Linked DNA regions of Homo sapiens: all the other regions are linked to region 1. The links come from fine-mapping of genetic effects on gene expression. A gene starts in region 1. Each other region holds a variant in brackets. All regions are shown on one strand. Distances are between the middles of the regions.

Region 1 (10,172 bases):
TGTCAGACCAAGATCATTACCAGAGGTAAAGAGGATACTTTCAGAATAATAAAAGGCCCAATTTATCAGTAAGGCATAAAACTCTTAAATGTGTAGGCATCAAATAAAAGAACTTCATAATTCCTGAAGTAAAAATCTGGCATAACTTTAGGAAAATACATATAAATCTAGAATTTCAGTTAGATGTTCTAGAAATCTCTCAGTAATTTTGTCTGCTCATTGACAGAATAAGCAGACAAAAAATTGAGGAAGACTATATATACAGAATATCTGAACATCACCAACTGCCTGAACCTAATCACTATTGACAGAACACTGTACCTGATAATTGCAGAGTGCACATTCCTTCCAGTACTCATGGACTATTCACCTAGATCATATTCCGGACCTTAATAGGAATCTCAATCAATTTGAAAAGACTAAAATCTTACAGAGTATGTTCCCTGACCGCAGTATAACTGAATTAGGAATCAATAACAAAATGATCTCAAGGAAACTTTCATATATTTGGAAATTAACAACACACTTCCAAATAACCCATAGATCAAAGAAGTACTTATAAGAGAAGTCAGAAAATATTTTGAACTAAATGATAATAAAAGCACAAAATATCAATATTTGTGAGATGTAGCTAAAACCATTCTTAGAAGAAAATTTGTAGAAGAAAACACTAACAAAGGAAGAAAAATAGTCACTTTCTGGTGCTCAATAAATTATTAGTTTTTAATCATTATTAATAGTATCATATACATAGCAAACTTAGTTTAGACAAATTTACAAAACGTGTGTGTCAGGGTAATGTTACCTATGGCATTCGTTATCAACAATTACCTCTTAAATTTGGCAAGGAATTTCATTAACATAGATTCCATTTCCTAGTGAAAGAGAAGAGCAAAGCATCTGCAGCTTAAAGACCTGGTTCCATCTTCTTCTTCTGCCATTTACTACTGTTCTGACTTTCTCTCTCTTGGTGGCAACTTTCTCAACTGTAGTGGAAAAAATGATATCTGCCTAATCTATGTCACAAAGTCACTCTAGAAAATAGAATGCCATATGAAAACGGACTTAGTGCCAAAAACAGTTAAGGCAATTATTCTTACTCATGAAGGAAGCTAGAGAGTGTTCCTGCTTCTTTTATATATTGCTTGTTTCACTGACGCTATCATTCTCTCTGATTTTTATATGTGGCCTTGAACTCAACAAAGGTTTATATTAAAGATCTTCTATGTAAATAATTGCAAAATTAGACCAGAAGAGAAACTAATGGGCAACTATGGCGTTAGAAGCTTGAACCACTTTCACAGCCTGCAACACCTGTTGAGTCACGTTCATGCTCCTAGGTGTAACATTCAGGGTCTCCATCACCTGGTTTCTCTCTGTTCTCCGGCCTCATTTTAACCTACTTAGCTCTAAAACTTTTAGACTGTTTCATGCCTTTGAATATTTAATCATGCAGTACCCACTGCCTTGAATGTTTTGCAAACTTTTTTTTTTTTAACTTGAAAAACCTGCTATGATTCCCTCTAGTTCTAGTTCCAGGCATCATCTTCCCCAGGAAGCTTTTCCCTAATCTCCTTAGGAGTTAAGGGCCCCTTCCTTCTACCCCCACAGAATCCTGCACAAAATACTGTCTTATAACCCCTGATATTGTGTTGTATTTTCTGTGTAGGAGTCTGTCTCATCACCCAGACTCTTGAGTTACACAAGGGAAGGACATGTTTTATTCATTTTTGTAGATTTAGTACAAAAGAGTACATTATAATAGGGTGCCTAGTGCATATTAAGAAATCAATAAATATCCATTACTTTCTTTAAAAAAAAATGAATTGCTTACACTTATAAATCTATTGAAAGTATCATGGCAAGAAGCAAAGCTCTTAAAAACCATAAAGAAATTATGAATTTTTCAGGGTTTTTGGAATGTGGTTGCCACTTAACATTCAAACTATTAATAAAATACTAATGTGGGTATAAACTGAAAACTCAGGTGTGTTTTTCTTTAAATAAATTTGGTGCAAGGAAATCTGTGATTATGTTGTTAAAATTGAGAATTAGAAAGCGGTTCTTCATTTAATGAAGAAGACTTTCTTTATACAAAATAAGCCATAAGATTAAATGGTGAACTGCTTGTGGACATTAAATTGACTAAAAAAGAGGTTTAAATTCCCATACAAGGAATACGTGATATGCACTAACTTATGTATATCTATATCTTAATAGAATGTGTTGGGCACGTCTACAAGATTTTCCTTAAAATGTAGAAGAAGCCTAGAGTATAATATTTAAGAAAGATTACATATTATTCCAGTTAAAACTTTCAAATTAGGATTGATTGCCAAGACTACTTCAACTCATGTGGGGAAATTGGAGGAGTGTTTTGACGGGGGAAAAGACAAAACAGAAAATGCCAGAGCCCAAAATAAGTTCCCCAGAGAAGCTGGGAGTCTTTGCCTTGATTGGATACAGACTGGGAACTTTCTCATTGCTTTGGAATTTGGGCTAACGTCCAAAACTGAGGGTAACCTGTGACAATTGCATTGCACATTCTGAAGAAAGGTACTTAGACATGTTCCCCACAGGATGTGTTAAGGTGTTGGCCAATCATCAAATATTGTCACTCCAAAGAACACATTTAACAGCCGGGAAGAAAATTGTAGGAAAAGAGAGCACTTTGGCACGGAAGGGTAAGCTGCTATGTGACTTCGTCTTGATCCAAGAGAGGAAATTGAGAGAAAACCCTCTGGAGCAAAGGTGGTGAGGACAGAGAGGCTCACTAGTGGGGAATACTGCCATCTTACAGAGTTCGAGAAATTTCCTCAGAGAGTTTGAAGGGTGCCCTCTAGAGCAGGACTTTGCAAACTTTCTGTGATAAAGGACCAACCTGTTTCAATTTCCAGTCCATCATGGAGTGACAGGTTTATAGATTTACTAGAACTGAATTTTTAGAAAAATGAAATGGAAACAATGTTCAGAGGTTACATACTCTGTATTGTAACATCAAATTGCTATAAAAATTTCTGAACAGTACTCTTAATTCCTGCACTTATTTTGTCATGAACTGGTAACAGACTGTTAAGAATCAACATGAGTGCTGAGACCTCAGAATAAGTACCTCTATCCTACATCAGAACTTCACCCAGAGATCTGGTTAAAATGACAATTCTGAGCACTACTGCCAGTCCAAGCTCTCTGCTACTAAGAGGCTCCTGGGCGATGCCAGTGCTCTGGTCGGGGGCATTCTTTGTGTCCAAGGCTCTAGAGAAGTGCAGGCCGATAGAAATATGATGTGAGCCACACATGTAATTTATTTTTTAGTAGCCTATTTAAAAAACAGGGAAAGGAAATGGGTGATTAATTTTACTAATACATTTTATTTAAGCCAATATATCCAAAATATTATCACGTGGTTGATATAAAAATTAGTGATGAGACATCTTGCTCTGTGTGTGCGTGTGTGTGTGTGTGTGTGTGTGTTTTAATACTAAAGCTTTGAGATCTCAATTTGGACTGGCACATTTCAAGTGTTCAATGGACACATGTGGTTAATGGCTTCAGTGTTTAGCCAGGCAGTGCTTGAATGTGGGCAGCACAGGGCCTGGTGCCTGACTCTGCAGGAGAAATCACAGGTATGAGGTGGCTGAAGATGCGCAGCATGACAGAGTGAGGCCAAAAGGCAGCAGTGCTTGAAGTTTGAGAACATGATGGGGGAGGATGTGTTCATTTTCCTGCAGGACAAGTAGCACTGTGCAAGTTAGTGCAAGTTATTTGAAGGGCCTCCCACCATTTCACAGCAAGAGGGGTGCATGCTGGAATGAAGGAATCCCAAGCACCTTCTGGTACAGGAGTCAAGGTTCTTACAAAAGATTAACGAGAGAGTGTTTTGAATGCATCAGGAAATGTTAAATGTATGAGTCCCTGAAAGGGTCTCCAAAGAATTAACAGAGGTACTTCATGAAAAAGACTTCTTGGAACATCTGTCCTACACAGGGCATTTGACAACAAAGAAAGACACAAATGCACTTGAGCTGGGGAGGAAAAACATTGATTTCAAGAATAAATTGAAGTTTTGGTATCTGATTGGGTTAGAGTTTTTTGATTCCTGAAAATAAGTTCTATAGTACTTGAAAGTAAACAGAAAGTCGTGGATCTGCCCAAGAGGTCGTTGAGGGGAGAAGAAAACTCTGACGGTAGTTTTGAGAAAGGTTGTGGAGAGAGACTGAATTTTTTTTTGTCCAATTTGATTTATTAAATCGACCATCATCTGTGTGAGCTCGTGTTGCAAAAATGACAACACAGATCATTTAAATGCTTTGTCGTTCACATCTCTACTCGGCAGCCTGACGCTGACAACACTGCCAGGCACATGAAGCAATCCCTCCAAGATACATTTCAGATATTAATGTTTTGGTATTGTTAAATCATATTATTTTTATTTCTATAAATTTATCTTGTTCCCCATGTTAATGGCAGAAAGTTTCAAGTTAAAATCAAGGGTAAACACATTGGCTTAGGACTCTGTCTTCTTCTGAAAGGCCTAAGCCAGGAAGGTGGATACAATTGAAGGAAGCCAAGAGAAATTGGTTAGCCTGCTACTGGCTGCAAAGAATAGAATCCCAGAGGCCAAGTATCTAAAATGACAATAGTAACTTCTCCCATAGCTAAGACTCACGTAGGGTGAATCTCATGGCTGGTTGATACTGTGACTCAATGACATTTAGGTTTTTACACAAAATATTTCTTCACTCTGCTATCTTTTGAGCTAGTTTCCTCTTTAGAATGGTAGCAAGAAGGCTATGCCAGATCTAAGCAGTATACTTATGGGCAATAATACCCAGGAGAAGAAAGAGTCACTTCTCAGGCTTCTCTTTCTCTCTCTCACTCTTTTTTTTTTTTTTTTTTTTTGAGAAGGAATCTCTCTCTGTCGCCCAGGCTGGAGTGCAGTGGTGCAATCTCAGCTCACTGCAACCTCCACCCACTGGGTTCAAGCAATTCTCCTGCCTCAGCCTCCCAAGTAGCTGGGATTACAGGAACATGCCGCCACGCCTGGCTAATTTTTTGTATTTTAGTAGAGACGGGGTTTCACCATATTGGCCAGCCTGGTCTTGAACTCCTGACCTCAAGTGATCCTCCCGCCTTGGCCTTCCAAAGTGCTGGGATTACAGGCATGAGCCACTGCACCTGGCCGCTTCTCTCTTTTTCTCAAATTTTTCTGACAGCCTCTCCCCCTGTCTCATTGTCCACAGTTAGATCACATGTCCATTCCTGAATTAATTACTGCAAGGGAAATAGAGACCAACGAGTAAATCTATATTCCAATGAGACTACCCCTGGAGTTGAGGTTCATGACTATGAGAAGGAAAGATGGATATGTGGACAAAATTAGATTCTATTAAAAAAAGAAAGAAGAGGCAATGAATGTCAGGTAAGCACCAATACTATTCACCAAATATCCTATGTAGGTTTCTAATCCAAGTAAAAGCATGCTTCCAATGGATAGAGATCTACCACATACTCTATGACAAACGTCTAAGCCAAACCAGGTTGTCCATGTGAACACAAACCTATTACTGAAACTGCTTCCTGGATAATATCACATTAAATTAAAACTTGGATCATGAAAAGGCTTTTGCAAAGACACAGTATTTCAGTGGAGGGACTTCGTAAAACAAACAAACAAACAAACAAACAAAAACCACAAAGTTCTCCCAGATACTCAACTGAGTTAATCTTGCATTGGATGTCCACATTTAATGTGTCACATTGGAGTCTTAAAGTACCTTCTGCTAGTTGTGTCAGAATTTTGCTTCAGAGTAGGATATAAAAAGAAAAAATATCTTCTTATAAATGTGATTGTTTTTCTGCCTTTGTTATAAATGAAAAGTTATGAACGTTTCAAGATGTACTTTCTTTTTAAGCAGTTAACTGTCAGTTTACTGTAGCTGGGCCCTGAGACAGAGATAAAGTCTTTATAAAACCTAAAACAATTTTAGAAGATTATTCAAACTTGTGGGTTTTTACACATATTTTTCCAGCATTAATTTGTTTCTATTTTTCTTGGAGCCGTAATGTATGGTTCTTGCTTTTCCAGTACACTACCTGAGTATAACAGTATGGTTAGAAGTTTCATTCTAACAGATCTGTTATTCTACATGGTGATAGCAATGGTTAATGCCAGACTAGTCTCCATACAAATAGTACTTGAGGAAAATTTTCTCTTCTTTCATTGGTAGTTTATATTAATATTCTTCACCTTGAATGCCAAATTTAGAAAAAAAGAGAAACCTCAGAAGAAAGACACTGTTTTCTCCCTTTTCTTAGGATACATATTTTGCTCCATAGTTTTTCTTGGTCAAATGGTTTTCTTTTAAGTTCTCTTCTCCATCTTTCTTTCTTGTTTACTCCAGGAATGCAAACTTGATCTTGACTTTAAGGTCAAAGCATTTTCAGAATGTGCAGTCAGCAGAGAATTGAAAAAAAAAATCAATGTGAAACATATTAGAGAAGAATAAGGGGAAGAGTGATGCAGAAGTGCTGGGAAGTCATGCAGGGATTGGAAACCACAAAGATTCTACAGAAAGTAAGAACGTCCTGCACCGAGATGTTTATGATTCCTTTTGCTTTTACTTCCCTTTTCTTACATAGGGGTAGGTGAAAATTATGGTAATTTGAGGTCTGGACCACTTTCAAAGCATTTTCAGGGGATGAAAATGACTTTTGACCTCTAAAAATGAGACATGTTTCTTTTTTTTTTTTTCCTGAAACCCTTTTTTCTTTTCCTGTTTTGTTCATGGTAGGGGAGATGACTATATTCCATACCTGTTATGCACACAAACTTAGAAGGGTTTATTGCAGCTCCATGGCTGAAAATAGCAATGAAAATTGTGAGACCTTTTATGTCAGCATTGGAAATAAACTTAATTTTAAATGAGAACACCTTTGATTTTATAAAGAGACTTATCCAGTGTAAAAGCTGGAAAGTTAAATAGAATCATAGTGGAAATGTTGATTCTAAAATTCTAGTATCTAGCCACAGACCTTGAAAAGAAGAAAGAAAGCTAGAAAGATGAAAGAAAGAAAGAAGAGGCCGGGCGTGGTGGCTCACGCCTGTAATCCCAGCACTTTGGGAGGCCGAGGCGGGTGGATCACGAGGTCAGGAGATTGAGACCATCCTGGCTAATATGGTGAAACCCCGCCTCTACTAAAAAATACAAAAACAAAAACAAAAACAAAAACAAAAAAAACAATTAGCCAGGCGTGGTGGTGGGCGCCTGTAGTCCCAGCTACTCGGGAGGCTGAGGCAGGAGAATGGCGTGAACCTGGAAGGCGGAGCTTGCAGTGAGCTGAGATCGCACCACTGCACTCCAGCCTGGGCAACAGAGCGAGACTCTGTCTCAGAAAAAGAAAAAAAGAAAGAAGAAAAGATCAATTGTCCTTTATGACAAGGATTATCATCTCTTTCCTTATTTATCATTGGACTCGAGAACAAATTAGATATAGAAAAAAATCCCATTACTTTGTGAAGCTTAATATTTACTGTAACTTACTGATCTAGAGAATGATCAGAGAAAATTTTAACTTTTATATATGTATACATATTCTGTATGTATATGTAAATGTGAAAAGACAAACAGGTTCTTAATCATCTTTCCATATGGCTGATTTAAAGTAATTATAAAGCCAAAACATTACTGAGTTATCTGGAAAATATGAAATGTTCTCTCAAACATTAACTATATTAATATTAATATAATCAAAGATTAATATTAACTATATGGCAAATTTTCTAAAAATCTAACTAATCTAAACATTTGCACTGGGGATAGACAGAACTGTCTTATTACAGATTTCTAGACATATATATTATAGATGATTATGTTTAGAATAAAGCATTTGTTAGGTAACATTCTTTCACTGTTTGTTACTTTTGCACTGACCTCACATACTTAAATTTTATAACAGCACAACAAGAATGTGCTGAGAACAGAGCTTGGCATAAGCTCATTGATAACCGTGAGTGTGAATTACTGGCAGAAATAGATATTGATGATTTAGTCCGTATCACAGTGGAAAGGGAGGAAAATTGAAAAGCTTTTTTTTCACTCTTTAGAAACATTTGAAATCATTCCTTGGAAAAGAAAAATCTATATTAGGGGCTGAGTAGGGGAAGATACAGGTTGAGTCATTAATTTGATCAGTACAGTAAGTTCAAAGATTGTTTCCACTACAACATCTCATCTGAAATTTTACAGATTCCCTTAAAGGGGGCCAAAAAAAAAAAAAAAAAGATAGTGATTTCTAAGCTGAATCAAATATGTGCACTTTACTTCATGGAAAATCAGTAGGGAAACAAGAAAGATTCTCTCTGCTAACATCGATTTTCCTTATATTTATTTTTTCAGTCGGAACACTCTAGGCAAAAATTCACTTGGCTTCAACTAATTTGCAAATGCCATCATTCACTGCTGTTTTGCTACCCATTTCTCAAATCTCAATTAAATGTGATGACAGTTTACTTGCCAGAAACACACAGAAAGGTTCTTTTCCAACCAGAGGTCTTCACTCATTTCCTGCTTGTGGACTTGGCAAGTGGGGTCAAAACATCCATTACTGAGGCTGAATCTTAATTTAGAAGGTTATCACCAGAGTCAGCAAAATAATTATAAAAATACTTTCCAAATGCAAACTGCAATAGACATGCACAGTAACAGCTGAAAACAATATATACATCATAAAGCCTGTTTACAATGGAATTTTAAAAGGGTGAATGTTTGGTTTGTACTTGTTGAAAGCTTGTATAACTCACTCCTAGGATGGACCCGAAACTGTCTTCTCTCTGCAACTATTCTTTACATTAAAACCAAAAATAACAACAAAAAATTACGCTACAAGTCTTGATGTTCTGGCTCAGACACCAAATTCCCTATAAAACTAAAAGTGAAGGGTGAGGTGAGACAAAATTTTGGCTTAAAGAAACACCAGTTGAGAAATGAAAGAAAGTACTGCTCACTTTTCCCTTATTTCTTCTATGTAAATAAGTTTCCTCATACAATTTATATAGTATTGCTTTAAATATATGGGATCTTTAGAAATCATAGAATGTTAAAAATATCAATATGTGTAAATGGGTACTCACTTCACATAATAGGTACTCAATAAATATTAGCTACAAAAGATAAAAACAAACTATAAGACATCTTTGTAGAGACAATTTGCTCAACCTTCTTCTCTCTCCCTTTTTTTTTTTCTTTTTGAGATAGAATTTCACTCTTGTTGCCCAGGCTGGAGTGCAATGGCATGATCTTGGCTCACTGCAACCTCCGCCTCCCAGGTTCAAGTGATTCTCCTGCCTCAGCCCCCGAGTAGTTGGGATTACAGGCATGCACCATCATGCCCGGCTAATTTTGTATTTTTAGTAGAGACAGGGTTTCTCCATGTTGGCGAGACTGGTCTCGAACTCCCAGCCTCAGGTGATTGGCCCCCCTCGGCCTCGCAAAGTGCTGGGATTACAGGTGCGAGTCCCTGCACCCGACCAACCCTCCTATTTATAGCTGAAGAACTGAGGGCTAAGTGGTTGAAAGACTTGCACAGCTCCTACACTGGCCTGCTGAAAGCCAGGGCTGCAACGCATTTCTTCTCACAGGTTCAGAGACTCCTGTACCTCATCACTGTTACAGAACCTCTCTGGGCCTCAGTTCATCATTTGATAACAAGAGTAACTCAACCTGCCCAGGGGTTATCCATCAAAGGCAATCGAGGTTGCAAGAATTCCTTTAAAATTTTAATTTACAGTATAGCACCTTGCAGGTAGCAGGCACTCCATAAATCTCTGAGGAATGGAATTTGCTGAAGAACAGTGGCAAAGGCTAGCTCTGATTCATTCCCCAAAGCTCATGGTGCTTGTCCAAACTGTTTAATCAGGCTTATGCAACCAACTCCTCTGACCTTTATTACGGGGTGGGTGCAATCACATGCGCTGTGGGAGGAGGGGCAGGTGGCCTCGGCCTGATCAGGGAGCACTAGAATGGGGACAACATTTTCTATTGTTCAGAAACTAAAAGGACTCTGCTTGACCCCAGTGTAAGCCTTTCACTGCAGTAGTTGGGAGCCAAGCTTTCTCTTCCAACCTATCTGTCCTGGCGATCTTCATTTTCTCTGTTTTTTTCCTAAGACAG
Region 2 (10,172 bases), 360 kb before region 1:
CTGTTTGATGCTCTGCGCTAATTTGTACCATGGTTACTGTGTTTGGTATGTTGTAAGAGCCCTATTCTTTTTAAATGTGTTCCACAGATTTAGAGATATTTAAAACACTGTGATGCCCGGAGGAAAAAAAAATGTTGTAATCAAGCCATTTGTCACTGTGCATAGGAATATAAGATTTCCACCAGACAGAAAAGATATTATGGGTTTCTCTCTGGCTACTGTACATGCCATAAGTAAAACAATGATGCATGAAGTTGAACTGACTGCCAAAAATAGATCAGGAAGAAAAATTTCTCCCATGACAACTGGCTGTGATCCTAGGGATTTTCCCTTTCACTCTGAAATCTTGAATAGGACTTTATCTTTTCTCTCACTTTCCTTTTCTTTCTTTCCTTTCCTCTCCCTCCTTCACTCCCTCCTTCCTTTCCTCCCTCCCTTTCTTTCCCCTCCCTCCCTCCCTCCCTCCCTTCCTTCCTTCCTTCCTTCCTTCCTTCCTTCCTTCCTCTTTTTTCTCTCTATAAACATACTGTGATTTTGCCTTGAAATTCTCAGCGCAGTAGTAGCAAACAGAAGTGTGGCACTGATCAAGTTAGTTTGAATGCAGAGCCACTGCAGTGGCTTTCTAGTGGAAACATGTTCTCCTCACTCCTAGTTCTCAGACCTTCATTCCTGACTCAGAAGAGCCTGGTAAGCCTGGGGTGATGTCATTTTCAGTCCTGAGGTAATGCTATTATTCAAGACATATTATTAAGCAATTGGATAGAGAAAGGAGTTCCTTTGAATGAATATACTTTATGCAGAAATATGATTCCTCCACAATCAGAGGCCCACACCTAAACCCAGACATTAAGAACAACAAAAGAACATCACCACCATCACCCCCAAAAACTCAGACAAAAAATTTAAAATTCCTCAGAGCATCAATACTGTGCCACTTGAACTGTGTAGTCCACACAACTATCACTTATAAATATCTGGAGAGTCTAAAAGTTGAAACCATCTGGCATTGTGCAACCGACAGTGGACATGTTGGAGTCTGGGGGTAGTATAGTGTATGGGTGCCGGCAAGCAAGAGAACTGGTATAGAATCTGAATTTTAACACTTAGCATATGTTAACTTTGGGCAGGTTACTCAGCTTTTTCCAGTTTCAAGCTCCTCATCTGTAAAACCCTTCATCCCTTTTCTGAAGCCATAAGGGAGTTATAATTAGCACGCCTCCATTGGCTCTGTTTTCCTGCTATTAATCTTTCTTAACATTTATACCTTGTCTTCTCGTTAAGATGGCGGGAGCCTGTGGCTTTGTGCACTCAAAGTCTCTATCATGGTTCTTTTTTCCGAGATTCACAGCATGAAAGCAGTAGATGAGAGAGAATGGTTTTCAGGAGTTTTCAATTGGGTTTGAAACCTGTCAAACTGGTTAAAAATTGCATGTTATTTGTACAGCACCCACTTATTTTATCAGTTGATTAATGAGGTGCTAGAGTAATGTGTTGCTTGTCTCCAATGTCTTAGAATTTGGTATGTAGTACATTTGATGTATAACTGATATGTTATAGTTTTATTTATTTATTTATTTTCTTTTTTTGTGCGCAATAGATTTCTTGAATTTATTTTTCCTATTTAACCAAAATTTTCTCTCTCCCTTCCTTCCTTCCTTCCTTCCTTCCTTCCTTCCTTCCTTCCTTCCTTCCTCTCTTCCTCTCTCTCTCTCTTTCTCTTTCTCTCTCTCTTTCTTTCTTTCCTTCTTTCTTTTATTATTATGATACTTTAAGTTCTAGGGTACATGTGCACAGCGTGTATTTATTTATTTATTTTGAGACAGAGTCTTGCTCTGTTGCCCAGGCTGGAGTGTAGTAGTGTGATCTTGGCTCACTGCAACCTCTGCCTCCTGGGTTCAAGCGATTATCCTGTCTCAGCCTCCAGCCTCCTGGGTTCAAGTGATTCTCCTGCCTCAGCCTCCTGAGTAGCTGACATACAGGTGTGCGTCACCACGCCTGGCTAATTTTTGTATTTTTAGTAGAGATGAGTTTTCACCATGTTGGCTAGGCTGGTCTTGAACTCCTGGGCTCAAGTGATACACCCGCCTTGGTCTCCCAAAGTGCTGGGATTGCCTGGCCGATATGTTATAGTTTGTTTTTTTTTTTTTTGAGATGGAGTCTCACTCTGTCACCCAGGCTGGAGTGCAGTGGCACGATCTTGGCTTACTGCAACCTCCGCCTCCTGGGTTCAAGCAATTCTCCTGCCTCAGCCTCCAGAGTAGCTGGGACTATTGGCGTGCACCACCACGCCTGGCTAATTTTTGTATTTTTAGTAGAGACGGGGTTTCACCATATTGGCCAGGATGTTCTTGATCTCTTGACCTCGTGATTTGCCCGCCTTGGCCTCCCAAAGTGCTGGGATTACAGGCATGAGCCACTGCAGCTGGCAGTTACAGTTTTAAAAGGTTAAAAATTATATGTAGAAAGAGAAGCCATAATCCAGTGTTTCTGGAGGACAAAGTGTATCTTTTTTGAAATACCGATTGAGATCTACAAATCCAGATCAACCCCACTTACAGATGAGGAAACTGAGATTCAAAGAATGATTTGAAAAAAGACATTTGGTTGATCAACTGTGGGGGACATGTACACATGCTGCCCAGATAGCCTTTCAAGGAAGGACTTTGAGTTCAGCTGCGGGGAGCGGAGGCAGCCCCACTGCCAGCTGTCAGCATCTTCAGGCTCTGTCCCAGCAGGAGAGTTGCTGTGACTGAGGTATCGCCCTTCCTAAGGGAGCCAGCATCTGTGGACCAGATGAGCCATGGGTGAAAAGGCCTGGCCACGGGGCCCACTGTGGGACAGTTTGATGGAATAGAGTTTTGAGTTTGATGGGTAATACTTGTTCCAGTGCTCCCTAAATTCTACCGGATATTTTGTCCGGCTTGCACTGCAGCCATCTTCCTTCCTCTTTCTTCCCTTCATGGGTGTTGATTCTTAATGAACTTCCTGACCCTCAGCTCTGTCTCAGTGCCTGCCTCCAGGGAAACCCACCTATGTCATTAATTGATTGAAATTACACAGTATATTGGCATTTCAGGAAATTGAGATAATTATCTTTAAATTTAATTATCTTTAAATTAACACATTTTATAAATATGAATAAAAAGTCTTCATATCATCAAATATAAAGGGTTGAAAAAGGAATATTTCTTGCCATAAATATAAAATAATCATAAAATAGGCCAGGTGTGGTGGCTCACACCTATAATCCCAGTACTTTGGGAGGCTGAGGTGGGCGGATCAATTGAGGTCAGGAGTTTGAGACCAGCCTGACCAATGTGGTGAAGCACCATCTGGACTAAAAAAAAAAAACAAAAATTAGCCAGGTGTGGTGGCGTGTGCCTGTAATCCCAGCCACTCAGGAGGCTGAGGCAGGAGAATCACTTGAACCCAGGAGGCTGGAGGCTGAGGCAGGAGAATCGCTTGAACCCAGGAGGCAGAGGTTGCAGTGAGCCAAGATCACAACACTGCACTCAAGCCTGGGTGACAGAGTGAGACTCTGTCTCAAAAAAAAAAAAAAAAAATCATTAAATAAATTCAAATAATATTAAAAAAACTTAACATTCTAGCTGAATTTTTTTCTGCCTAATGTTCTAGACTTCTTTTTCTCTGCATAAAAAAGATCAGCAAGTGTTGGAGAAGTTAAGATATACTACCAACAACCAATTCTCTCATCTTGATGTAATCAGAGAATAGGAAGAGAATTAAAAGGGAATAACTATCTCACTATGTAATCCAGTGTTATTTAATACTAAATGAGAATTTCTCTAATTCATATCTGTGAACCAGAGTACGGGGGCCATAATGTGGCAGACACCAACTTAAGTAAGTGATCAATTGTGGATCCACCATCATTTATCAGATATAATTTCAGTCTATTTTTGTAAAACTCAAAATGGAAATATTTCTGATGTCTGTTTCTCAGCCCCAATTTTTCCACCAATCCTCCATTCTAATGTAAAACTGGCCTACATTTTCTCTTTGTTCTGTTTCTATGTTTAGAAAAGATTAGAAGATTCCTACAGATAAGCCTCCTCCCAGTTCAGGTGAATTTACCTCTTTCATTTAAGCAGAAATAAAAAATTCAGTTCTTTCTTTCCTTGATTCATTCACTGAAGAATATATCTTTTGATGTCTACAAAGCTGGCTTAGTACAGGATAAGTGCGGAGAGACAGGGATAGAATCTGAGAGGGTGTATTTGTGAATGCTACTGTCTGGCTATAACAACCCCAGGCATGCTTGGGGAAAAAGTTAGGGAATTAGAAATTTTGGACAAGAAAGGAAACTAAAGTGTAAAGATAAAAAGAAGAAAGTAAAAGAATTAGTAAAGGAATGAAGGAAGATTTTCTTTCATTGTATAGGCCCTATATATAGAATATCATTTTTTTTCCTGGATTCCAGTTTATTGGAAAATAGATGTATCACAGGTATGATAGCCTCTTATATACATGTTTGAAAGAGTGATTTGAAAAAACTAATTAGTATGTAAATGTTCATTGTAGTGAAGGAAATGAGTCTTCAAGTTCTCAGATCATACAAAGGAATCTCATAGATTTGGGTGCTCAAAGCTCTGTTCTGGATATGTCTCCAAAAGTTCTTTACTTTTAGCTATGTACTATTTTTTTTGGAGAAAAATTGCCACTGAGAACTTAACCGTGGAATCCCCAGATAGGATTAGGCCTTGTTTTGGCACTACCTATGAGGTATGCTACTTGTTTCTGGCACCTGGATCTTCTTTGAAATTGTCAATTGGGTCCAACTGGTTCAGAAACTTCTTCCAAGTAAGGGGGGTTGAAAGGGATC[C/G]TTAAATTTGTGATTTTACAAAACTTCACCTGCTAGCCAAGAGGGAACAACATGAATTGAATTTACCCTCTTGCTTGAAACAACTGAAAAGATGGATCCAATATATGAAAACAAAATAAAACAAGACAAAACAGTTTTCAAGACTTTAGACTTCAGTGTTCCCTGAGAGACGGGCAACAAATGAGATGACTGAGTTTTGTGATTATCCCAACTTACTCCCTGGAGAGAGTTTCCGGGCCATGAGAGGGAGAGGGAACCTAGGGAGAGCCTGGCAATTATCTTGAGTTGAGGAGGCCAAGGCAATGTAGGATACAGTAAATTCCTCTTCAAAGTTTAGCCTGTTAACTTCCCTTAAAATTCGAGAGGGAGAAAATTGTTAAGTACAATGAGTTCTGAGTCCCTCTCCAAAGAACCAATGTGGCAGTATGTTCAGCTTCCCTGTACTTCATTTTCCATTTTAAAGTTTGACTTCCTCATTCTTTACATCTCCTTGCCCCTAGTTTCAGTAAACAACTCCCTTTTAGCCTCTATCACCTGCTCTGTCCTCAGTCATCCTTAGTCACCTGCTCTGTCCTCAGTCATCCTTAGTCACCTGCTCTGTAACCATCCCTCCCACCAAAACTACTCACCCTGCCACTCTGGCTTGTACCCTCACTCTCTTTAAAATAGCCAGTCAGAATTAGCTTAGACTGCGTGGTCCAATACTAGCCAATAGGGGAAAGACACAGCAGTAGGGACTAGCTGCATTAGGAATAAGGCCTTCCTTCCCCTCCCTTGTCTGGTGTGCTCTTGCCATTGCTCCATCCATGAGACGTACCTTTCTATAGAAGCAAATTGCCTTGCTGAGAAAACTTTTGCCCGAGTGCTATTTTCATTTGGCAGCACAGAGCATTTACTTCCAAGAGCAGCTAGAATTTGCAGGTAGGTTGCTGTAAAGGAGAGAGTTGTACAGAGAGAGGACTCTGGAGACCTGCCAAGGGTCCTCCTTGAGTCTTCAGCTGAATACCAATCAGTGCATGCTTGTGAGAAAAATATCTTCAGGCAGGAGAAAGAACTAGCTGAAAGAAGCAGAAGAAATCATCTTCAAAGTTCTCACAGGGCTGATATTATTCCTGTTCCTGCTGGCCAGACTAGAAAACATCATAATTCATGGGGCTTTTGATAGAGTATTTGGAGGGATTTGCCTCAGTGGTGGTGTAAAATTAGTGCAGATTAAATGCATTAGAAATTGAAATATGTGGGTGCTATGGTTTGGATATAGTTTGTTTGTCCCCAATGAAACTCATGTTGAAATTTGATCCCCATGTGGTGGTGCTGGGAAGTGGCGCCCAGTGGGAAGTGTTTGGGTTATGGGGGTGGATTCCTTGGGAGTGGCTTGGTTCCATTCTCATGGTTGTAAGTGAGCTCTGGTTCTGACAAGACTGACTGGATTAGTTCTCATGGAAATGGATTAGTTTCCCATGAGAGTGTGTTGTTATAAAGCCAGGACACCCCTCTGGTTTTGTCTCTTTCCACATGTTGGCATCTCTTTTGACCTTCTCTGCCATGTTATTATGCAGCATAAAAGACCTTGCCAGAAGCCAGGGCCATGCCCTTCAACTCCTCAGCCTATAGAACTATGAGCTAAATAAACCTCTTTTATTTATAAACTACTCAATCTCAGGTATTCTGTTATAGCCACGCAAAACTAAGACTGTGAGTAAATGTAAAGACTTGTTTTTTTCTTATTTTGGTGTCTTTAACAGATGATCGAAATGGTTACAGCGAAATTAATAATCATGTATTGTGGGATTTATAATGTGTATTTGGTCAAATGCATGACAAAATAGGACAAAGGTTGGGAAGGAAGAAATGGAGGTAGATGTACCAGTGTCAGGTCCTTCTACTTTATGTGAAGTGAGTAGTATCACTTGAAGTCAGAATTAATTCACTGGTACAGTATGAAAGTTCAAAAAGTGTACAAGTAACAGAGAAGCTGTCACAGGCATCAAATGATATCTGAGCTGGTCCGAATGTGTAAAGTGGATTTTAAAATGTCACTACGAAGGAAGAAGGGCGTTCAGGGTGAGGGAATAACGTGAAAGAAAATTAGTGAAAGAAGGAGAATAAAGAGCCTATGTTGTTTATTGTGAACACTCCTGCTTAGTTGGAATATGGGAATGTTCCAATGCATAGTGGGCAGTAAGGCTAACAAAGTCAGTAGCAACCAAACCATGGAAGGCCTTCTCTAAGTTTGTACTTTCTTTTGTAAGTAAGCAGTGGATGTGGACAGCTTGCGAGTGGTGGGAAGGCATGGTCAGAACTACACTTTAGCATTTGTGCTAATCTGTCAGTAATGTATAAAATGAATTAGAGTAGACAAAGACTTAAAGTAGGAAAGTTAGGAGGTTGTGGTAAAAGTCCAAATGAGTATAATAGGCTTTAACTAGGACAGTGGGAGAGAAGATGGAAAGAAAGGGAAAGATATCAATGAAGAGCAGAGAGAATTGATGGGTTTGAGTAAAGGGCATGAGAGAAGAGAGAGGTAAAGATGTCTGCCTGTCTGATCTAGACTGGGAAGATAATGGTACCTTGAACAGAAACAGGGAAACACAGGTGAACACACAGATTTTGGCTTTGGACTTCTCGGCTTGGGGTATCCTGGATTCGTCTGGGTGGAGAGGATTGGCAGACAGCTGAGAATGCAGACTAGGAGCTGGGAAAAGAGATTGTGATGAGAGAGGGATTTAGGAATCACATGTACTATGTGAGTGTTGAAGCTGTGGAATTAGATGAGATCATCCAGGGAGACAGTAGACAGCAGTGAGAGAGGAGAGGGCAGGGAAAGGAACATTGGGTCAAGCCTTCATTTAGCAGGCAGGAAGAAAAATACCAGAAGAGGAGGAGTATATGGAGGGTTTTTTTGTTTGTTTTTGTATGACACCTTGGTGAGATTTTTCTCTGTCTCTCTGGGAGGAAATGGAAAAAATCCTTGGAGAAATAATTTCTTTAAATGGTTGTGGACGCCCCCCTCCCTTATGCATGTATATATTTGCCAAAAAGAGCATAATTTTACAGGATGCAAATGCCAAAAGTGGAAAGAAGACTTGTGTAGAAGAAAAAACAGCACTGAATAACTTTTTATAAATGCAAGAAACAAGAAGAATAAAGCAGACCACTACAACGGTAAAAGAAACTATTATTGTTATTTTAATGAAAAGAACCAATTGGCAAGTCTAATGACATTTTTGAATGCAGGAACCACTTTTTCCAGTGATTTGCTTCCCTGTGCGAGGTCTCCGTTCACCCTTGCACCACTTCAGCAAAATGCTGAACACATAGTAGATGCCCCATTGTGTTTTAATTAGATGCCACATACTCAGGCAGGATTCGCCAGTCGTGGTCCTTGAATGTAGAGATTTCAGAGGTGGGAGGAGGGGAAGGAAGAAGGTAGTTTTGTTTACGTTTGCAGCAGAGGCGACTGAGAAGAGGGAAACACTTTTATTTCCCTTGTGGACTGGCCGTTCACTTTGCTGTAGCAGCTGCTAATGGAAAATAATAAAACCCATTTTCATCAGGCAGTATCTGGAACACTTACAGGTCAATTGAGTGCTCAAAACAGATTGTTACAGAACACATTATTAGTTCGTCATCAGCATCCACTCTGGTCAGGGGATTTTTACCATTGGAAATTGAATTTATAGGTCATGGTTTGTTATGATTCCTGAAAATCATCAAATTTTTGTAATCTAGTGGAAGCATATAGCCAATTATTATAAATGAACATACATCTTTTCATTTGTTAAAATCACAAAGGTAGCAAATTAAGCTGTGGAAGAATTCTACAGCAGCTGCAAAAATATGACTTCACTAATTCTAAACCTATGTTATGCTTATTAATTGTTCCAAACTGAAAAATTTGGTCCCAGTTTCATAATAAATCCCATCCTATAATACAATGCCAGGAGGTAATGCCAACACTATTTTTGTAAAGCACCGAAACCCAAGCATGAGATGAAATTCAAGGGTGTTTTTCTGTTTGCTATCATTCTCGTATATGAATGTGCTGTTTTAAAATGATCCTTTCCAAATGCAGAGTTAAATGAAGTTAGCTGGACTTTTTTTTTCGAGACGGAGGTTTGCTCTTGTTGCCCAGGCTGGAGTGCAATGATGCAATCTCAGCTCACTGCAACCTCCGACTCCCAGGTTCAAGCAATTCTCCTGCCTCAGCCCAGCTATTTGGGATTACAGGTGCCCTCCACCATGTCCAGCTAATTTTTTGTATTTTTAGTAGAGATGGGGTTTCACCATGTTGGCCAGGCTGGTCTCAAACTCTTGACCTCAGGTGATCCACCTTCCTCAGCCTCCCAAAGTGCTGGGATTACAGGCGTGAGACACCGTGCCCAGCTAGCTGGACTTTTAAAACACAATACCCATGGTGGGGATTGAATGGTCTGGTGGAAAGAACCCTGCCCTGGGCGTAGGGTGCTAATTTTGTCATTTGCTAACTGTGGGACCTCGGGCAAGCTATAGCACTGCCTGGGCCTCAGTTTCCTCCTCTGCAACATGAGGAATTTGGATTAGATGTTTTCTTAGAACACTTTCCTGTATGTTTACAAAATATTCGTTCTTGTTTCTTTCGAATTACATAAATATATGTTTATGGTGGAGAACTCCCAAAATAAAAATAAGCAAAAAAGAGAAAGTGAAACTCATGTATAATGCTACAACCCAGAGATACACACTATTAACATTATGATGTCTGTTCTTCCAGTTCACTCGTGTGTATACCTATGTACATTTAAGTATACACATACCATTCTATATATACGTCATTTTGCAACCTAATTCTTTTCACTTAAAATTGGACCATTGGACCACTCTATATATACGTCATTTTGCAACCTAATTTTTTTCACTTAAAAATAGTGCAAGTATTATTCTCTAATGTGATTTTTTTTTCAAATAGAATCCCATTGTATGAATAGGTCATTAATTTCTCTAATTCCCTATGAATGGATTACTTGGTATTTTTCAGTCTCTTGCAATTTTTCACAATGTTTGAATAAAAACTAATATGGCTAAATCTCTAAACATTTCCAAATTCTTGTCTTAGGGCAAATTGCCAGAAACAGAATTGCTGGGTTACAAGGTATGCGTGCTTCTTAAAGATTTAATGTCTATTGCTAAATTCACATAAAATTTAAATTATGTGTTACGCTTTTTTGTCTCTGGAGATAATTAATCACATTCAGAGTCAGGAATCCTGAGTGTGATACTCCCTTATAATAAGATATGGCTGGGTGCATTTATACACATACACTTTTATCCGTGAACTGTTTTGATATTG
Region 3 (10,172 bases), 12 kb before region 1:
CAAATGCCAACCTGAACTCCTCCCAGTATGACTTGCTATCCATTTATTTTCATTCGTTTACAGTCTATTCAACCTTTCAGCTGGCTTTTCAACCATGAGATAGTGTCCATATAGATGTCAATTTTTATTAAGCTCCTAACTAATTTTAAAGCACTACACAAGCTGTTTTTCTGAAGTTCTGTACATCTGCTACTCTGCACTCCCACGTTCCTTAATGGTGTAATTCTCTAGAAATGACCTATCAAATATGATGAAGCTCATTGCTCATGATCTGCATTTTATGCCTCTTCTTTTCTCTTCCTGACCCAGGTCTGTGTGCTGGGACCACAATGACACTTAGTGGTCAGGCTAGAATGTTGGCTGGCCTAACGAGCCACTGTTATTCTTCACCAACTGTGGTGACTCCGTGGGGCACAATATTTTTAAAACTCTCTTTCCCCAAGATTCTCACCAGCCTAGAAATTGGCTGGCGTTCTGCTATTATTCTCATCTGAGAGCAATCAGTGAAGAGGTTTCAAGTACAGAGGCACAGTACATCACCTCCTTGAACTGCCAGCTTTGATTTAAGGACGAGAAAATCTTGAGCAGCCAAACAGAGCTCAAGGTTGAATTGTTTTACAAAAGTCTGACAATTTTGCCCAAATGCATCAATTTCTTTGATAGCATCAAATGATATTAACATGGCACACTATTTAAATTACAACCCCCAATATTCCTGACCTCCTTTTTCTGCTTTTTCTATTTAGCATTAGTCCCATGTGATATACTTTATATTATACCTACGTTTTATTTTTCTGTCTTTGCCTCCCCCCCTTTAATGTAAGCTCCATGAGGGAAGGGATTTTCCTCATGACTGTTTTCCTTTATGTTCAGTACCCAAAAAGGTGCCTTGAACATAGGAATTTCACAGTAGGTGTTGGATGGCTGAATGTATGAAGGAATGATTTTATATACAGTGCACATCAGCTTAATAAATTATTCTTTTTCTCTACTAGGCTCAGTCCACTTTTTTCTGTTTCTACTGATATACTGCCTTTTCTCTTCCTCATCTCTAATATACATTTGAATACTTCCTCCATATTTGTTACCTCTTGGAAACTTTTCTTGAACCACCGCAGGGAGGTCTACTCCCCTTAGTTCTCAATTTATGTTTATGTTGTTCAGTTTTTGAGGACAGCAACTCTTTCACATGAGGCTACCTTCTTTTCCAAATGCCTTAATATGCTGGGTGGTAAATGCTGCCAGAATTGTTATTTCTGCCACATCAGCACATGTGTCACGGGAAGAAAAACACTGTTTGGTTTCCAGATTTGAAGAGCAAAATGTGTATTATGCAAAATGGCGCTTTGTCTTTAACGGGAGTAGTTCCAGTTTTAAATCCCAGCTGCCTTTACCATCTATTTGACCCTAAATAGTTGTTAAAACCTTCTGATCCCTAATGCCTTCATCTATAAGATGAAGTTAATAATATTAATACCTTCCTTGCAGGGTGAATGTGGGGCCTGGGGCTAATATGTATCAAACCCCAGGCTTGACAGATAAGACATTACCACTAACTGGCTATTATTAGTGTTGTTGTTGTTGTTATTGCTACTGTTACTATTACTGTATCATTCCTCCTTCCTCTGATTTACCACCTATACTGTGCAGGAATCTCCACTTCAGTAGAAAAAATACATTCAGCTATTTCAATTTGGGATTAAATTTTCCATCCATTCGTTTATTCAACAAGCATTTTTTGAGAGCCTAGCATGTGCCAAGTACAACACTGATTGCAAGGAATACAAAAATGAATACACATTAGTCCCTGCACCTTCATAGCTTTCAGTCTGTGGAATTTATTTACTTATTCAGCGGAATAGTTCAACAAATATTTAGCGAGCATTGATTGAGTCCCAGCTGCAGTTATGGGGACCAGGAATACATGAGTGAAAAAAGAAGATGGGGATTACTTTCTAGTGGAAGGAGATGGAAAATAAACATAAATACATAAATAAGTGAATTCTGTAGTATGCTACAATGTGATAAGGGCTAGTGACACCTAGTGAAGCAGAGGAAAACGGACCCGGGGTGTTAAGTTGGTGGAGGGGGGGTTCAGGGGCCAGGGGATTTGCAATTTTTAAGTAAGGTGGTAAAGGCAGACTTTCCTGGGAATGTGACATTTGAGCAAAGACTCAAGGAAATGAAGAAATGAGCCACATGGATATCTGGGGGAAGAACATTTCAGCAGAGGGAATATGAGCAGAGCAGGGAGCAGGGGGCTGTTGTAACAGAGGGCTGCTTTAAAATGCCGTGGCATGGGAATGCAGGGTGCAGGAAAGAGAGATGTAGAAGCGGGGATCTTGGTTGCGTTTTCCACTGACCAAGTCTTAGTCATTTTCTATTATTCCTATGACTGAACTGCCTAGGTTCCTCCCTTGGCTAGAAAGGCTAGATCTGGGAACAATGAATGGAGAATGCGTGATGTGTCTGCTGACTACACCTAATCATCCACTTCCAAGGCTTTTTTTTTTTTTTTCTCACCTCTATGACTCTAGGATCCTTTATTTCAGTGGTTTTTGTACGCGACAGAAGAATGTTGCCGCCAGAAGTCTGAATTAAGACCCCGCGGACATGGAAGATCCCCTTTTGACTTTCTGGTTGTAGTCCCATGAGTCAAATGACAAAAAAAAGAGGTGGTGGTATTGGGAAAGGTTTCTGTGGTTGCCTAGGACAATAGGCCTGATATTTCAGGGAACATCTTTGTATTGGGAGGCATAGATGAAATGTTAGAATTTCCGTGGAGGCCAGGAGCGGGGCGGTGGCTCATGCCTGTAATCCCAGCACTTTGGGAGGCCCAGGCAGGTGGATCACGAGGTCAGAAGTTCAAGACCAGCCTGGCCAAGATGGTGAAATCCTCTCTGTACTAAAAATACAAAAAATAGCCGAGTGTGGTGGCAGGCACCTGTAATCCCAGTTACTTTGGAGACTGAGGCAGGAGAATCGCTTGAACCTGGGAGGTGGAGGTTGTAGGGAGTTGAGATCACGCCACTGCACTCCAGCCTGGGCAACAAGAGCAAAACTCCGTCTAAAAAAAAAAAAAAAAAAAAAAGAATTTCCCTGGAATCCCTATGCAGACTTTCATATCAGTAGTAAAGTTTATCTAATGGGGAGATCAGACTTCCTTGTCACCAGCCATTCAGTCTTTCTTCTTCAAGGGCTCTGACGGTCCAGTCAAACCACTAGTTTCTCCTCATAAACGTGTGGCTTCTTACCCCAACCAACTCCCCTTTCACGCAAAGTAGACGCAGATGACCTTGAAGTTCTGTATACCATGAATCTTTCTCTTCTGTGGTGTTTACAGTCACAGCTGAGTACCACTACTCGCCAATTCAGATTATTGTGCAAAGTTCACCAACTTTTTCTTCTTGGATATCCTAGGCCACTTTGCTTAACATACTTGAAGTAGCTAGCTTCTCTGATTGAAAATCAGACCAGTTTATCTGTAAATTCAGTCAAGGTTTTCACTGAACAGTTATCCTCATGTTTACACTGATTATTTTCTCAGTTTTTAACCATTCATTTTTAAGCAGGAAGTAATCATAGTTGGGCCTTTTTACTTGACTCATTGGATTTGCCAGACATGGAGAAGTTTTACGTTCTTTGATTAAAACTTCAGTCACATATTTTCTTTATGTTTTTTGCTGTTCTCCAATATAAAAGTTAGACTCTTTAAAAATATTTAGGAATTTTGCAGTCTCCTTTCTTGAAGTATAACTTACTACAGTAAAATGCCCAAATCTTAACTTATAAGCTGATTGACTTCAAACATATCTACATCCTCTTGTAATTACTCCTAGATAAAGATTAAGATAATTTCCATCAACTTAGAAAGCTTCACCATGCCCCTTCCCAGGCAATATTCCACCTCAGAGGAAACCATTGTTCTGACTTCTATCTCCATAGATTAGTTTTGTTTATTCTTCAGCTAAATAATTACATAATACAGTATGTATTTTTTCTGCCTTCTTTTATTTAACACAGAATTTTTGAGGTTCATCTACATTGATGTATTAGTAATTTGCCCTTTCTAAATTGCTGAAAGTATTTCATTGTGTAGATATACATGGTATTTATCCATTCTCCGATTGATGAACTAGAGAACTGTCAGCAGCCCTTCACTCTGGTGAAGACTAGAAAAACTTTCAATTTTTTTTCTAGTTTATGGCTATAAAAAAGCTTCTATAAATATTCTTAACATAAATTTTCATTTTGTTTATTTTTAAGATAGACACATGCATGTATTTCTCTTAGTTGCATATCAAAGAGTGGAGTTGGTGAGCCATGGGGTGTGTTTAATTCTTCAGGAGACTGCCAAATAATCTTCCAAAGTGGTTGGATTGTTACATATTCCCAACAGCAACAGAAAAAAGTTCCAGGTGCTCCTGTTCTCACCAACACTTGGTATTCTCAGTGTTTTTTTTCTTAGCTTTAGCTATTAAAATGCCTAATTAGTGAGAAAAGTGTACATTTTGATGCCCTTAAGGAAATATGCCTGCTACTGAACTCAGATAAGGAGCTGAGCATGAAAGGACTCAAAGGGAAAAAAGAATTCTGTTTAGACAGAAAAAAAAGTTTCAAGTCTGCAGATTTTTTTTATCAACATCTGAAGAGGGATGCCATGCCGTGAATTTTCCTTCAGCCATGAATTGTGATAACATAAGAAAATGAAAACACAAGCGAAATCTATTCACAAAAAGGTAGAATCTGGTGTGAAGAACCTTAACTGGCAAAAAGGAAGATTTAATTTGCAGTTATTTGAACTGAGCGTTCTTTTTTTGATCCTTTGATTTTTGATCACTCTGTTCTCTCTACGTGGGTGCTATTGCAAACACGCTTGTCTTCAAACTCCTTGACATAGCTATGTGTCATTCTTATGGGAAAATTTCCCAACTCTAACTTGCGAGACTGGCCCTAAATGGAACAC[G/T]CTGTGCTATAAAAATGAAAGACACTTTATAAATGTATCTCTTCTAAGAGGTGTGTTATTTTGCATAAAATAGAGTTAACAAATGATCTGCTTTTAGAGTATGAGTTAACACTAAAATTTTAATATTTGTTCCAGTTTCATATTTTAAAATTATTTTCAACTTAGTCTTTTTGAGAATGTCATAGAAGAATACATTTATTTGAAGAATCAAGAAAAAATCCAGCCTACTCTACTTAAGAGTCAACGATTCTACTAGCACATTCCAAAAATGTCTTTCCTTTGAATCCTCATTGTATCTTATGGATTTATCACACATACTTAACTTTTTCTTTACAAACCTGTTTCTATCTGCTAGATAATGGCAATCTTGCTGGCAGTGATCATAGCCCATTCTCCACTCCCGGGGCCTGGTATGGGGTCTATAACATACTGAGTCCAGAATTGGTGGGTTCTTGGTCTCACTGACTTCAAGAATGAAGTCGCGAACCCTCGCGGTGAGTGTTACAGTTCTTAAAGGCGGTGTGTCTGGAGTTTATTCCTTCTGATGTTCGGATGTGTCCGGAGTTTGTTTCTTCTGGTGGGTTCATGGTCTCGCTGGCTCAGGAGTGAAGCTGCAGACCTTCGCGGTGAGTGTTACAGCTCTTAATGTGGCGCGTCTGGAGTTGTTCATTCCTCCCAGTGGGTTCGTGGTCTCGCTGGCTTCAGGAGTGAAGCTGCAGACCTTCATGGTGAGTGTTACAGCTTGTAAAGGCAGTGTGGACCCAACGACTGAGCAGTAGCAAGATTTATTGCAAAGAACGAATAACAAAGCTTCCACAGTCTGGAATGGGACAGGGCCCTAGGGTTGCCACTGCTGGCTCAGGCAGCCTGCTTTTATTCTCTTATCCGGCCTCACCCACATACTGCTGATTGGTCCATTTTACAGAGAGCCAATTGGTCTGTTTTACAGAGAGCTGATTGGTCCATTTTGACAGGGTGCTGATTGGTGTGTTTACAATCCATGAGCTAGACACAAAAGTTCTCCACCTCCCCACTAGATGAGCTAGATACAGAGTGCCGATTGGCGTATTTACAAACCCTAAGCTAGACAGAGTGCTGATTGGTGCATTTACAAACCTTGAGCTAGATACAGAGTGCCAATTGGTGCATTCACAATCCCTTAGCTAGACACAAAGATTCTCCAAGTCCCCACCAGATTAGCTAGACACAGAGCACTGATTGGTGCATTTACAAACCTTGAGCTAGACACAGAGTGCCAACTGGTGCATTCACAATCCCTTAGCTAGACATAAAGATTCTCCAAGTGCCCACCAGATTAGCTAGATAGAGTGCCAACTGGTGCATCCACAAACCCTGAGCTAGACACAGGGTGCTGATTGGTGTGACAAACCTTGAGCTAGGCAGAGTGCTGATTGGTGCACTCACAATCCCTTAGCTAGACACAAAGGTTCTCCAAGTCCCCACTAGACTCAGGAGCCCAGCTGGCCTCACCCAGTGGATCTTGCACCGGGGCTGCAGGTGGAGCTGCCTGCCAGCCATGCACCCGCACTCCTCAGCCCTTGGGCGGTCGATGGGACCCGGCACCGTGGAGCAGGGGGCGGTGCTCCTCTGGGCACGGGGGTGGGGGCGGGGGCGGGGGGAGGAGGGAGAGACTCAGGCATGGCAGGCTGCGGGTCCCTAGCCCTGCTTGTGGGGAGGCGGCTAAGGCCCGGTGAGAAATCGAGCACAGCAGCTGCTGGCCCAGGTGCTAAGCCCCTCACTGCCCGGGGCCAGCGGGATTGGCCGGCCACTCTGAGTGTGGGGCCCGCGGAGCCCATGCCCACCCGGAACTCGGCTGGCCCGCAAGTGCCCTGGGCAGCCTGGTTCCCACCCACGCCTCTCCCTCCACACCTCCCGGCAAGCTGAGGGAGCCGGCTCAGGCCTTGGCCAGTCCAGAAAGGGGCTCCCACAGTGCAGCGGCAGGCTGAAGGGCTCCTCAAGTGCGACCAGAGTGGGCGCCAAGGCCGAGGAGGTGCCCAGAGCGAGCGAGGGCTGCGAGGGCTGACAGCACGCTGTCACCTCTCAATACTAATTGATAATAAATGTTTCTGGAATGCTGAATTGCATGAAGGAAATGAGAGAAAATCACATAAGCTGCTTTCAAGTCCCGACCTCTGAGAACAATGCATATACCTTTGGACAGCTTATTAAAAGGAAAATTTCAGGATGTGTACAATGTTATTTTCTGTTTATTCCTGGACATGAACATAATATTTAATTAAACTCTGAGAGGTAATACTAATAATATTTGTGAGACTGTACACTAGCTATAGAATGACAAAAGTTACAGCTTTCATAATCTTTTCCTGTGGAATAACACATACTAACAGAAAATTGTTTGCTATTTTCCCTTTAGCAAGGCTAAGGTATTGTCCAGTGGTTTGGCCAGTGAAGTCAAAATATCCCCACCATTTACTTGGTGAAAACCACTGAATCAGTTTCTACGAGGTAGAGAGAAATAACCTCAGAAGCTAGCCTTATAGACTCAATTTATAAAGTCATGGTAAGTCTAAAACAAACAAACAAAAAACAAACAAACAAAAACCTCCCCACCAAATGTAAGAGAAATGAAGAAACAAGATTCCAGATTCAATTTATATAAGTTTTCTCTTCGAAAAAGTTATTTCTAAGAGCCCTGAAAATAAAAACCATTTTACCTAGTTATAGAGAAAATTATTTTTCCAGATTTTTTTGGCAGTGTTTTAGGTAGAAAAAAAGTTTTGTAATGAGATTCTCCTTCCATAATTATTCGTATCTGTGCATTTGGTAGGTACTGAACACACTCCACTGTATCTCAGAAGGGATCTACAGATAAAGATGACTCAGCACAAACAGTTCCAATCTGAAGCATTCAGAGAATCTCTTCTTTCCTTGTTCTCAGATGTTTTGAAATAAACATTGGCAGTGTTTATTTATGAAGGTTCGGGACTTTTTGAATGTGTCAGCAGCATGCCTTGACTCTAAACAGACTATGTTGCAATTTTTTTCCCTGATGATTCAAAACTATAAACTTAAAATTACCTAATTAAAAAGATACTGAACTACAATAAACTTGGACTACAACTTCAGTTATGTACCTTGTCTGAAATTAGATCATTTCAATAACCCCTCTTCATGCCAAAGACAGCGTTTCCTCTTAGTGCATAAACATCCTCTGAACTCTGACTGAGGGTTCTTTGTTGCTTGATCATTGTTGTTTTGAACGATATAATTTTAATTCTTTCCCTGTTTTGTTAAATTGAGGATTTTGGCTCAAATTTATTTTTCTTAATAGGCTATGAGTTACACGGAGAAGTAGAAAGAAAATAGCTCAAGAGAAGTGTCAACAAATACTGTTGGGGGGGTACTCAATTGTTTAAATAAGAATTTAAAGCTTAAGTTTATTGTGAATAATTCTCATTCTGGAGAGATGAAACGAAGAACCTATATATACTGCAGTCTAATGATAAATATTTAAAATCCAACGAGAAACACTCATCCGACATACATATTTCTAGCATTTTCCTGATGTTGGTAATGCATTAATAATGCTTCAATTGATTGGCATATATTTTGGTGGATAGGCCAAAAACAGGATGTCAATTGCTAGAAAGCAAGATGCCTTCTCTCCTCTATTTTCTCTTTTCTTTAGGTCCCATGAAACCTCAGCTTCCCTATTTGTTTAATGGAGATAATCATTCTTTCTTCATTTTTTCATAGTCAAATTGGCTGTAGAGTTCACCCAAAATGATGTCTATGGACATATTTAAAGATATCACAGGCCATAGAAATGTGTTAAACTTTTTTGTTAATGCTGGATAATATGGCCTGATCTCGTACTTTCTTCTTGTAGTAATTTTTACTTCCTCATTTTGCTCCTGTAAAGTATCTATGTTGAAGGGAGAATTGTGAGCTCACTCATCCATGAAGAAAAGAGGTGAGAGAGACTGAAACGGAGGCGAAGAGGAAGAAGATTATTATCCCTTATCTCTAACTTTTCTACAAGTATTTGCTTCTAGAGAGACATGAATAATAGTGAGAAAAGTAGGAAATTTCCTTTCTTTCCTTTTCTTTTTTGAGATGGCATCTCACTATGTTGCCCAGGCTACCTTTCAACTAACTCCTGGGCTCAAGTGATCCTTCTGCCTCACTTACCTGAGTAGCTGGGACTACAAGTGTGCTCCACTGCACTTAGCTTAAATGTCTTTTCCAATAAATAAATACATAAATAAAAGGCTGGAATCTATTTTTAAAAAATTTGTGTCAACCCAGAATACAATAAAGAGATAAAAGGTTTAAACAGTGTCTATATCTTCTGCCATCCCAAGAGCCACTTAAGAGGAATGCTAGAACTCAATAGGTAACAGACTGAAGATAATTATCCTAATCATAACTTCTAGGGGATTGTGGGTAGAAAGGGGGTGCTGGTGTGAAGTTATTGCATTTAACTTTACACAACCATACAGGGTAGTTATGTTTAGGCTGATATTACGAGAGCTAAAAGTGAAAGCCCAAGGAGGTTAAATTCCTAGGTTACAGTGAAACCAGTGTCCAAACTAAGATTTGTTTTTAAAGACTGTTCTCTGGCTATGGCAGAATCCAGTCACATACAAGGTACAGCCCCTAGCATTGTGGTTTGTGAAAAATAGATGCCTAACAATTGCATGTTGAGTCAGAGGTCACAGTAGCTGGAAAGGGTAATGGTGTTTGGTAAATTGGATAAATTCACTTTATATTGTTGATTTCTTTCTGTAATTTTTTTTTTTACTGCATCTGTAAGCTATCTGAAATGTGAGCACTGAATTTTATCTATTTGTCTTTTTGGTTACAGTAAGAAGTACAGATACTTTGCTCGGTTGGTGGAACAAAATTATAGATGAGATGTGTCAATATTGTGGTTGTCTCTAAATTTGTTTATGAGAGATTTTTGTAAAAATATCTTTTGCCTTGGAATAAAAAGAAGATAAAAAATTTTGATATTGGAGTTGTATGCAAATCTGCAAAACTTTCATCTATTATTGCCATGAAATTACTATGTTTAGAACAATCCTTAACCTACACTTATCTATGACATTGCCTGTCAATTTTATGAAATGGAAAGATGGCTTGGGTGACTTGAACCGCCGGTAAGAACGTCAGAGAAAAGTTGATTTCCTATTCTGACCGTAAGACCAGCTTATAAACTGTT

Direction of the effects. Positions count from the first base shown, and alleles are read on the strand shown. Sizes are in standard deviations (SD) of each study's normalised expression. Not every link is listed here.
For the expression in cartilage of the gene that starts at base 2,553 in region 1, C is the low allele of the variant in region 2 and G is the other (large effect, 1.0 SD a copy in Steinberg 2020).

What was found. PIP is the estimated chance that this variant, and not a neighbour inherited with it, causes the effect. A credible set is the group of variants that fine-mapping cannot tell apart.
Region 2: its variant is the best candidate, but not a certain one, in a credible set for the expression of LINC02015 in cartilage (Steinberg 2020, PIP 0.67).
Region 3: its variant is the best candidate, but not a certain one, in a credible set for the expression of LINC02015 in fibroblasts (GTEx, PIP 0.77).

Annotation. Positions count from the first base shown.
Region 1 is chr3:177,814,313-177,824,484 of GRCh38, forward strand. LINC02015 (long intergenic non-protein coding RNA 2015) reads left to right here and starts at 2,553. Exons shown (of 3, transcript NR_110826.1): 1 at 2,553-2,684.
Region 2 is chr3:177,451,989-177,462,160 of GRCh38, forward strand. The region is part of intron 1 of LINC00578 (long intergenic non-protein coding RNA 578); the gene reads left to right. Among named protein-coding and RNA genes, the nearest start is that of LINC00578, 15 kb to the left of the region's middle. RefSeq lists a silencer at 479-679 and an enhancer at 4,911-6,110. The variant C/G (reference allele first, on the strand shown) is at 4,844.
Region 3 is chr3:177,802,431-177,812,602 of GRCh38, forward strand. No RefSeq gene overlaps it. Among named protein-coding and RNA genes, the nearest start is that of LINC02015, 9.3 kb to the right of the region's middle. The variant G/T (reference allele first, on the strand shown) is at 4,967.